2 separate regions of the Homo sapiens genome follow, and region 1 is linked to region 2. The links come from fine-mapping of genetic effects on gene expression. A gene starts in region 2. The other region holds a variant in brackets. All regions are shown on one strand. Distances are from middle to middle. Region 1 has its middle 32 kb from the start of PRR15. Region 2 holds the start of WIPF3 (WAS/WASL interacting protein family member 3).

What was found.
Region 1: its variant is fine-mapped to the expression of WIPF3 in lung (TOPMed, PIP 0.98).

What each region holds. Positions count from the first base shown.
Region 1 is chr7:29,593,555-29,598,935 of GRCh38, forward strand. No RefSeq gene overlaps it. Among named protein-coding and RNA genes, the nearest start is that of PRR15, 32 kb to the left of the region's middle. The variant A/G (reference allele first, on the strand shown) is at 2,879.
Region 2 is chr7:29,803,681-29,809,061 of GRCh38, forward strand. WIPF3 (WAS/WASL interacting protein family member 3) reads left to right here and starts at 2,828. Exons shown (of 9, transcript NM_001080529.3): 1 at 2,828-2,998. RefSeq lists an enhancer at 2,564-3,473.

The DNA of each region.
Region 1 (5,381 bases), 210 kb before region 2:
GCTTACCTTGAGGAGAAAAAAAAAAGTGAAGGGAAGTTACTCTTGTACTCAGTTGACTCAGTATAGTAAAGGTCAAAGATTACCATATGTATTTAAAAATTTCTTTCTGTGAGCAAATCATTTAACTTCAACCACACCTTAACAATCTCAAGAACAGATACATTCTTAGTTGATGAATAGCTTGCAATAGGGATCCTTATCTTTTCTAATTCTCTAACTTACATTTGAACACAGCATTAAATGGCAAAGGTCTCATTTTAAGACTAGCTCTCTCTTCTTTAGAAAAGCAAGTTAATTATAATTGAGTTTTAAGATAATGCAAGATCACACTAAGTGACTTTTGATTTAAAATCTTAACTTTCTGAGACAGAAAAAATCAGCCAAATTGTTTAGCAAAATCTTACTTTCTTTAGACTAGTTCTAGAAATATACTTTAGACAAATAATTTTCTTTCTTTGGGGGATTAAAACCTGGAAGGAGATATTAATTTTCCTTCTGTTTAGGTAGATCTAAGGAGGGATTGTAGATTTTGGGTTCACAGTGAACTCCATAGGTCAGCAAACTAAATGACAAAAATAAGTTATAAGGAGCACTATTTCTATACAAAATGTATTTATTTTATTTTGTAAGAAAAGAATAACGTGTTGAATATTAAGGAAATTTTTATTTTACTTGATTCCAAGAAGCAAGATTATGCAGATGTGGGGTCTTGTTCTTCCACACCTGGCATCCTAAATGGTTAAAATATTTTTATTGTAAAATCATAACTTCTATATTTCAAGACTCCCAGGAAACATTACTTATTAAATCCATAATATTTATAGGAATGCCCCTAAATTAACAAACTGTAAGAAAAATCTGAATGTACAAAACAGATCACTTAGGGACAGAAATTATTTTTTATTACCAAAACACTCTTTAACTCAAAAAAGATTCACCAAAAATAGTCTTAGATTTGGAATTATCATAGCGTTTACAGGTGCAGAGGATAAATGATGGAAAAGGCTCCAAAATGAGGATAATGAGGCCCCAAATTGTAGATCAATGTATAAGTAAACAAAAATGCTTTACCATTATAATGTAAGCTAATGGGAAAATATGATTTGCTTTGTCAAACATTGATTTATATAGGAAATGGTATAAAATCTAATGAAAGGAATTACATAATTCTTTATATAGCAGATTATGTGTCTAGAAGATTTTGCCCTCTCCAAAAAACAAAATTTAGTCAGGACAGAATATAACAGATATGAAATGACTTTAGCTAAGTTGGAACACAGAAATATCACAAAGTTAATTAAGCTAATAGCTTATTTTCATCTTTTATCATTAAAGTGTTGGCCTGTCGTTGGTGGCTCACGCCTGTGATCCCAGCACTCTGGGAGGCTGGGGCAGATGGATCACCTGAGGTCAGGAGTTCGAGACCAGCCTGACCAACATGGTGAAACCCCGTCTATGCTAAAAACGCAAAAACTAGATGGGCGTGGTGGCGGGCGCCTTTAATCCCAGCTACTCCGGAGGCTGAGGCAGGAGAATCGCCTGAACTCAGGAGGCGGAGGTTGCAATGAGCTGAGATCCGCCATCATACTCCAGCCTGGGCCACAAGAGCAAAACTCCGTCTCGGGGGAGGGAGAAAAAAAAAAAGGTGTTGAATGGCTTATACAAATTGCAAAAAGAATAAAATCAATATTTAGGCACCAAGGGCAAAAATTATCATAGTAAGCTATTTAATAAATACTTTCTGATATCTTTTGCTTGAATATTACTGAAAGGGAAAATAAAAGGCTATAACCACCAGGACAGGCAAACAGGGAGAGGCCAGGGGTAGCTGCTTGACAGGGAGGGAGTTTTCAATGATCTCTAAAACCAATTCTAGGATAAATCCAAAAAATACGATGTCAATTAACTCAGACTGTCACACACAATTCCTCATATAGCTGATAAAATAAAACTTAGCTCTATATCTTTGAGTTACATAAAAAAATTTCTCTTTGGTGCTGATCTTTCTCTTTTTTAAAAAATGTCGAGCATATTAAAGACTATAATTTCACAGGATATCAAACTATTCATCTACTTTGAGTACCAAATTATTATCGAACTCAGCGCACCCACATATCTTGGTGTTGCTTAAGGATAGGGACCTTGTCTTTTTTGTGAAGTGCCTAAACCATAATAGGGGCTCAATGATATTCACTGAATGCATGAATTAACAGATTATCAATACCTAAGATGTCTAAGGATGACGTGGAGAAAAACTAACATATTCTTCAGCCAAACAGTACTGGATGAGACTATTGCCAAATCCAATAAGATGTGTATTATATTGTTTTAGAAATTTTGCATGGTCTACAGCATATTAGAAGTCTTCTGAATGTCAAGAGGACCTGGGAAAATCCCAAGATTATCCCAAGTAGTCCAGGTAGAAGCATAGAATCTAGAATTTTTTCACCTGAAATGGACTCTAAAGAATAATTTGGCATAAAGAAAATGTAGCATGTGTGTATATACGTGTGTGTGTGTGTGTGTGTGTGTGTGTGTGTACACCATGGAATACTACTCAGCCATGAGAAAGAAAAAATAATGTCTTTTGCAACAACTTGGATGGAACTGGAGGCCATAATCCTAAGTGAAATAACTAAGGACTGGAAAACCAAATACCTCATGTTCTCACTTATAAGTGGGAGCTAAGCTATGGGTATGCAAAGGCAGACAGAGTGATAGATACACTGAAGACTCAGAAGTGGGGAGGATGAGAGGGAGTTAGGGATTTAAAAAAAATCACCTGTTGGGTATACTACATACTGTTTGGGTGATGAGTACACTAAAAGCCCAAACTTCACCACTATACAACTTATCCATCTAATAAAAAACCACTTGT[A/G]CCCCTAAAGCTATTGAAATAAAAATATTTTTTTAAAATTATACTCTATCCAACCTCAACCTTTACAGATAAGAATATCCAGGCCTACTTGAGTCATTTGCCTAGTAACAGTTAATTAACATCATAGATGAAAATGATACCGTTTCCCAGTCAAGGGTTCTTTAGACAACACATGCTGCTTTTTATAAAATAATGGAATTATGAAGATGATCAAATAAGAAATGACAACTTTGTATTATTTTTTATTGCTTCTTCATAGTTGATTTCTATCCCAGATTCAAGACATGTTGATACTGTGGAGTTGGGCAAACATGGAGAATAGGAAGATGCCAGAAAGCTGCTGGAACTGCTACAACAAGATTACATGAAACTAACAAGTGTCTTGTTCCACCCTCACATGGTAGCAGGGAAGGGAGTAGGTTTGGGAGGATTCATGTTTGGCCTCCCTAGCAAAGGTAGCATTAGTCTTTCAGAGGGTCTGACTCAGTCAGTTTGAGTTGGTGTTTAATGGTATTGCTAAGTTGCTTAAAGGTACGTGACCGAGGAGATTTGGACAGGACATGATGTTCAAAAGTCCATTTATTAACTAGATAACAAACTCTTAGACAGATTTCTGGAGTGAAAATGTTGCTTGGAATGTAGTCGTATTCCAAGTAAATATTTTGCAGTAACATTCACAAACTATTCTAGCCTACATACTCCCACTCTTCCAAGAATTAGTTAAGTAACATTTTTCATGTTGATGCAATCAAATTATTACTGTTCAAAAATATTGCTAGTGAAGAAAAGATCAATTATAGGAACTTTAAGCTCTAATGAAGAAAAATGCACTTGATATTGAATGATAATAGCTTTCTCCAGGTATCATTTATCACTGAATAATATAGAATTAAGTTTTCAGGGCCTCAGTGAATTAGATAAGGCATTGCACAAATACACACACATATATGTATACACACTCATACTATACATATAAACATACAGTTGGTTCTTGTTAGTCACAGTAGTTATGTTTTTTAAAGTCACCACTTTACTGAATTACTAATTCACTGATTCACTTAATAGTAAATACTGAACCATTGCTCCCAGGGGAAATAGAGGTTAGGTTCCTGTGTGCCTCTTTTTTTTTTTTTTTTTTTTTAAGATGGAGTCCCATTCTGTTACCCAGGCTGGAGTGCAATGGCGCAATCTTGGCTCACTGCAACCTCCGCTTCCTGGGTTCAAGCAATTCTCCCTGCCTCGGCCTCCCCAGTAGCTGGGATTATAGGTGCCCGCCACCATGCTCATCTAATTTTTGTATTTTTTAGTAGAGGGGGTTTCGCCATGTTGGCCAGGCTGGTCTTGAACTCCTGACCTCAGGTGATCCACCTGCCTTGGCCTCTCAAAGTGCTGGGATTACAGGCATAAGCCACAGCACCCAGCCCCGATGTGCCTCTTGTCACAACGTTTGTCAACTGAACAGTACATAACTTTGTTTTATGTGTGTTTCTGTTTAAAGTCACCATACTTAATATGTATTATTGATTCATTAACATTGAACTCATGGCCAACAGCACTAACTATAACACATGCTTGAATGAAGCTTATCTAACATGGATTTTCTCTGTAGGGTATATCATAACCTTCTTGTTCTTAGGAATGCTAGCTGGCACTTCAGCACTATGCTTGGGGGCCATTTGAAACAGCAAAATACTACAAAAAGCACAAAATGGGAGTAACATGGCACTAAATAGCAGAAAAGGACACTTGTTTATAGTATGAGAGCTGAAACAAGAAGGCATAACCTTGCCTGGGAACCTATGTGCCCGTGAGGTGATTTGAATTTTTCACTACTCTGCATATGGCTGTGACTACCAAAGTATCCTAAGTATGGAATTGGAATAAATTTTAATAAGTCAGTAAATTTGCAAATATGGACTCCATGAATAAGGAGGATTGACTGAACACAAGTACTATATGTATACATATATGCATATATGCATTCATGTGGCATTTCTCTGATGACCAAATAAGTTTGGGCCAGTGTTGTTGGCAGTTGTGACTGTTTGCAGCCACAGTGTCATTTCTAAAACGTAACAAGAGCACGTTATCCCTACCTAACAGGTTGAACATTTAGATACCCCTGCATGCTTTGGGTGGTTAGACAGCTGTAAAGTGTCCATTCTTCTTACTTGCAGATTCTTAGAACTGCACCTTTTCTTGAGCCCCTCAAAGCCCCTATTTCTTTTCGATATGGTTGAAATGAGAAAATGCTAAGCTTCATTTTCTAAAGTAGAAGGAAATAAAAAACTCCAAACCTCCTCTACCTTTCTGGCGTCGGGAAGAATGTGAGCCTACAGTCCTGCCCTTCTCAGCAGCTGGCGGTGGCTTTCCGTGTCACTTGGCGTGAATCCATGGGAAGAGGGAGGGGCATGTAGACTTTAGATTGACTTATTGCCTAGCTCTGCTGATTTTCTGCGTGATCTTCATCTGTAAAATGAGAATAATAATGCTTACCTCACAG
Region 2 (5,381 bases):
CTAGGCATTTCATTTGCATTCAAATCATAAAGAAAGTGGGAAATGGGCTGGGCGCGGTGGCTCACGCCTATAATCCCAACACTTTGGGAAGCCAAGGTGGGCAGATCACCTGAGGTCAGGAGTTCGAGACCAGCCTGGCCAACATGGTGAAACCCCGCCTCTACTAAAAATACAAAAATTACCTGGGCATGGTGGCAAGCGCCTGTAATCCCAGCTACTCAGGAGGCTGAGGCAGGAGAATCTCTTGAACCCCGTAGGCGGAGGTTGCAGCGGGCCAAGATGGTGCCATTGTACTCCAGCCTGGGCAGCAAGAGCAAAACTCTGTCTAAAAAAAAAAAAAGAAAAAAGAAAAGAGGGAAAAGGAAAGACAGAACCAGAAAAAATTTTTCAGAGGCTCCCCCACCAGACCCTTCTTTCAACTCATTGGCTAGAACTGGGTCAATGACTTCCTTAGCTGTAAGAAAGACTGGGAAATCAGGAAGGGGATTGTCATGGTCGTCTTGGATCAATCATAATCCTGGGTTCTGTCACTAAGGAAGAAGTGGAGAATAGACTGATAATTGGGAAGACAATTCACAGTGTCTGCCACTGAACAAGTACCATCTACTAGGAAGAGCTAGTGCCTTCTTGAAGTCAATTTGTCTTAGTGGAGCTAGGTGGAAATGAATCCCTCCCTAATGTCCGTAGGAACAAGATGCTAATGGTATTGTTACTTCACATGGATAGAAAACACTGATCACCTGAATGGAATGCCTCTTGAAGCTTTCAGCCCCAAATGTCCAAATTGATTCCTCACTCACCACCTCCCCATCCCTACAACCAGGCATTTTAAAAAACAAATTCTTTGATCCAATCCAGCATCTCTTGAGATAAATAACAGGCTTTCCATCCAACTGGCTCATGCTTGGGCTGCTCAGGAGATCTGATGGGAACTCTCTAGGCCCATGGCAATGTCTTCTCTAATAGTTTGACTTTTCTTCCTTTTTGAATTAGAATACTAGTGGTTATGTATTTAGTGAGCTTTAGCACTGGAGGTCCAGAGAAGGAGAGTGGCTGGGTCATGTTTTGGGGTTTTGGGTTTTGTTTTTGTTTTAGTAACAATCACCCATGTAAGAGGGCTTATGAATTTTATGTTGGAGAACTGTTCTTCAGGTTCCATACCTGTGGTCATCTATTATGATTCTAAAGGAGGAAAGGGCAAGAGGAACTCAGGACAAACAGGTGGAAAGCAAGTGCCTCATCAGCTTCCACTCACTACACATAGACCTTTCGTCACCTAAATCAAAAGAGAAAACCATGTTCTTGACGACACTGGAGTGAAAGACATCAAAAGTGTATTATTAATCCTTGCTTTCGACACATTGCCCAGCTACAAACATGAGTAATTAAGAGATCAGCTAAGGGCTGCTTGGGGAACATACTTTGACAGCAGCCACTACAGAACTTGAACCTGAATACAGGCTGCAATCCACGTGTGAGATCTTCCCTGCTGGCATTGGCTGCTCCCTCACCTGGGTCCCCAACATTTCACACAAGCCTCAGCACAGCGCTGAGCGCCAGGTTTCTCCTCTATTCCAGACCAGCAGCAACTTTAGAGTTAGACACCTTGCCCTGAGGCCCTGCAGAGTGTCTGGCTCATGGCAGATACTCAAACACCGAGGCTGAGTGAACAGTCCACGAGTACCCGCTTAGCTCCTCCACTAGCAGGAATGCCCAGGACATGGGCAATACAGAATCCTCACCCAATGATCTCAGCACCTACAGCAATGCATTCAGCCTCGGACACAAACTTTCTGCATCCTCCAAGGGCCTGAACAAGAAATGTGACAGAAGCAAGGTTTTCCGTTCTTCAAGCTTATTTCAGGTTTGTTTTTGTTTGTTTCTTTGTTTGGTTTGGTTTGGTTTTTTGAGACAGGGTCTCACTCTATCGCCCAGGCTGGAGTGCAGTGGTTCATTGCAACTTTTGCCTCCTGGGTTCAAGAGATCCTTCCACCTCAGCCTCCCGAGTAGCTAGGACTAGAGAGCGCCACCACACCCGGCTAACTTTTGTATTTTTTGGTAGAGACAGGGCTTCACCATGTTGGCCAGGCTAGTAACTCCTGACCTCAAGTGATCCGTCCACCTCGGCCTCCCAAAGTCCTTGGATTCCAGGCTTGAGCCACCGCGCCCGGCCCTATTTCAGTTTTCAGTCTGCTTTCTCCTCCCTTCGACTCTACCTGGGACATCAATCTACCTCCCCAGGCTACCCGGATAATTCTCTCATCACCTGGCTAATTCACACTCAGTCTTCAGTTTTTCTCGTCGACGTCAGCTCCTCAAGAAGCCCTCCCTGACCTACTCCCCACCCCAAGTTTAGATCAGGTGCTCCCTCTGGGAGCCGGCTCAGGAGGCCTCTGCCTCCTCTTGGTTGTGCTGTAATCGCCCATTGGTCGCTTTCCTTTTCTAGACTGTGAACTCCACGAGGGCAAGAGGTAATCTTGTTCTCTCGTCCCCATCGCTTATGACACCGCCTGGAGCTTAGTAAGGGCTCAACATTTTGGAATAAATTCAAGGAGTGGCGTGTCCCCAGAGTAGCTGTGCTGGGCCGTGTGCCGCCCGCGCAACAGCTCCTATTTGGGGAATTCCAGCCTTAGGCCTCAGTCTCTCCGCAGCTGAGACTTGGGACTCTGTACCCGGGAGGCGCGCCCGCCGACTTGGGACCCGCCTCCAGGGTCCCAGAGCGACCCCGCCCGCCGGGGCCGTGTCCCTGCCGCGGGGCGGCGGCGGCTCCCAGGCAGGAGCCTGCGAGCAGGTGGGGGCGGCGGCCCCGCCTCCGCGTCCCGGCAGCACCAGAGCCGGTGGCCGGGGAGCGAGCCGGGCGCACCGAGCGCAGCTCGGCGGTAGCGGCGCCGCTTGGAGCACGGGCGCTGCGGGACGGAGCCCGGAGCCGGAGGCGGCGGCGGCGGAGACGTCGGCCGGAGCTCGAGTCCAGTCCAGCCCCCGGCTCCGCCACCTGCAGGTAGCGGCTTCCCGCGCGGGTGCGGGTCGGTGCCCGAGGGTGGAAGGAACGGGCGGTGTGGCGGCCGCCGCCCTGGTCGGTCCCGGAGCAGAGTGGCCCGGCCCGGGACAGAGATCCTGAGGGCGTGGGAGGGCCGGGGAACCCCCGCCGGGCTGCAGCCCCGGGCCCAGGAGGTTGTCGACGTGCCGCGCGGCGCTCACGCCCCCCACCCGCACCCTGCCACGCCGCCCCGGCCGGGCCGGGCCGGGCCGGGCGGAAACAAACCGCGGGGTGGGGAGCGAGGTCACCACGGGGTTGCTTGGTGACTTCTCCGGACTGGACTCCCCGGTGAGCAGCCCCTGGCACCGAGGCCGCCTCGGCCTGGTCCTTCGCGACGCTCTCTCTTCTCCGCTTCGCCCCCGGAACAAAAGGCTGGGGTCTCGCTGGGGAGGGGGCTGTCGCGGGAAGGGCTGGGGCGGAGTAAAAGAGAGCTAGGAAATTGCAGAGCCGGAGGTGGCTTGGGGAATACAGAAGGAGCCCCCTAGTGAGGAAGCCAACTCCAGAGATGTGAAGTGACTTGTCCAAGGTCACACAGCTCATGGGGACAGAGCGCAGGTCTCTGGACACCCCTCCCGTGCTCATCTCCAAGCCCCTGGGGTCAGTAGTCAGACTGTGCTCCAGCAATGTACATTTGGCCACAAATGGGTTTAGGGTCCTTTGGAGGATTAGGTGGTGGGTAGGTAGGTGGCAGAGCAGATTTCCCCCAGCCCCTGACACGCACTCTCTGAAGGTGGCGGGGAGGGCGGGCACCCGGCCGCCCTGGACCTGGAGGAGCGCCGCCCGGGCCCCGTGGGCAGGCAGGCACCGGCTCTCAGGAACAGCGCCTTTGGAGGGTGGCGTGCCAGCCGCGTGGGTGTGCCCGTGGCGGGCGCCGGGGCGGCGTGGGGACCGTGTGTGCGCCTCCCTCTGGAAAGAAGTTTCTGCAGGGAAAGGCCAGGAGAGCGGTTCCATGCGCCCTGGGACAGTGTGGCCAATCCCTGACACTCAGGGCGCTTTGTAACTGGCTGTATTGGGGAGGAAAGTTACTCTGTAGCAGGAAGTTAGGCTGTCTCTTCGCCTCTGTGCCTGGGGTCCTTGGCTGTAAATGAGGGCCTTGTTTGGCATGACCAGTGTGATTTAGAAGGTTTGTGCCCCTCCGCCTCCTCCTTTCCAGAATCTTTTCTCACTTCACAGGGAGGACTGGGAGTGCACTTCTTGTGCCCAGCATTAATAGTTATCACTGGGACTCCTGCCTCCCTTCAATTTTTTTTAACTTTATCATTACGAAAGAGGTCAGAGGAGAGGTTGTTTTTGGGCCTTGCAAGGAGATAAACTCCAGGTCAATACCTGGACAGGACATGAGGGAGGCTTCTGGGATGCTAGAAATGCTTCTCACCTTGACCTAAGAATTACTGAAGTTATACCCTTGAGACTTGTGCACTTAACGTAAATTCTACCTCAGTGAAAAAGTAAATAAAAATGTGATGCTAAAGTCCACTCATTGTGGTAACACACAGATTGCTGCAGTTTTCCAGCTAATGCATTTCAAAGATACATTTAAAAACCACAAAAACCAAATCAGAAAAGAAGTGGCGAGGAGGGGCAAAAGAAAGTTAAGAAGTAACTGGAAATGAAACATACACTGCAGATGCCTTTATGTGCATCACCTCCTGTGATTCGCAGCAATTCTTTAACAGAGATATTGTTATTGTGCCTTTTTTACAGATGAGAAAATAAAAGGTCACAGAGGTTAAATTACTTACTCAGGGTAACAGCCTGGGCACACAGACTTCAAATTCTAGACAGGCAACCTTCAACAGGCAATTTGTGGCCACCTGAATCGGGGCAGAGCGGTCAGGGTGACAGACACTTGTAGGCTGGCTTCCTGCCATTGCCCCCTTTTTGTTCCTTTAGGAGTCTCTGTTTTCACGTAATTGTGAGTGTGACATTGTGTCACAGATTGCAGTTACCCAGCAGCAGAAGGAATGGAGGAAGTGTGTGTGTGTGTGTGTGTGTGTGTGTGTGTGTCTAAGAACATACAGTTATAAGAACAGGGGAAAGCCAGCTGGTCTAGCCTGGCAACGCTCTTTTTAGGAGACTTATTGTTCAGAAACCATATAGTACAGGTTGCGAGTTTGCAGTCACTCCAACACATACACAAAGAATAAAGAATATAACCTAGGAAAGATCCGAGAAAACAAAATGTGATTAACAGTAGAGGGAAACATAGAATTTTCACCAGGATGGCAGTCAACTTTTTTACATTCTAGAATTTATAAATATGTTTATTAATGTTGAAGTTTTTAAAAAAGAAACCTACACAAATAACTCAGCAAAAGGAAGGAAATGTGTTTTCTAGCAAATG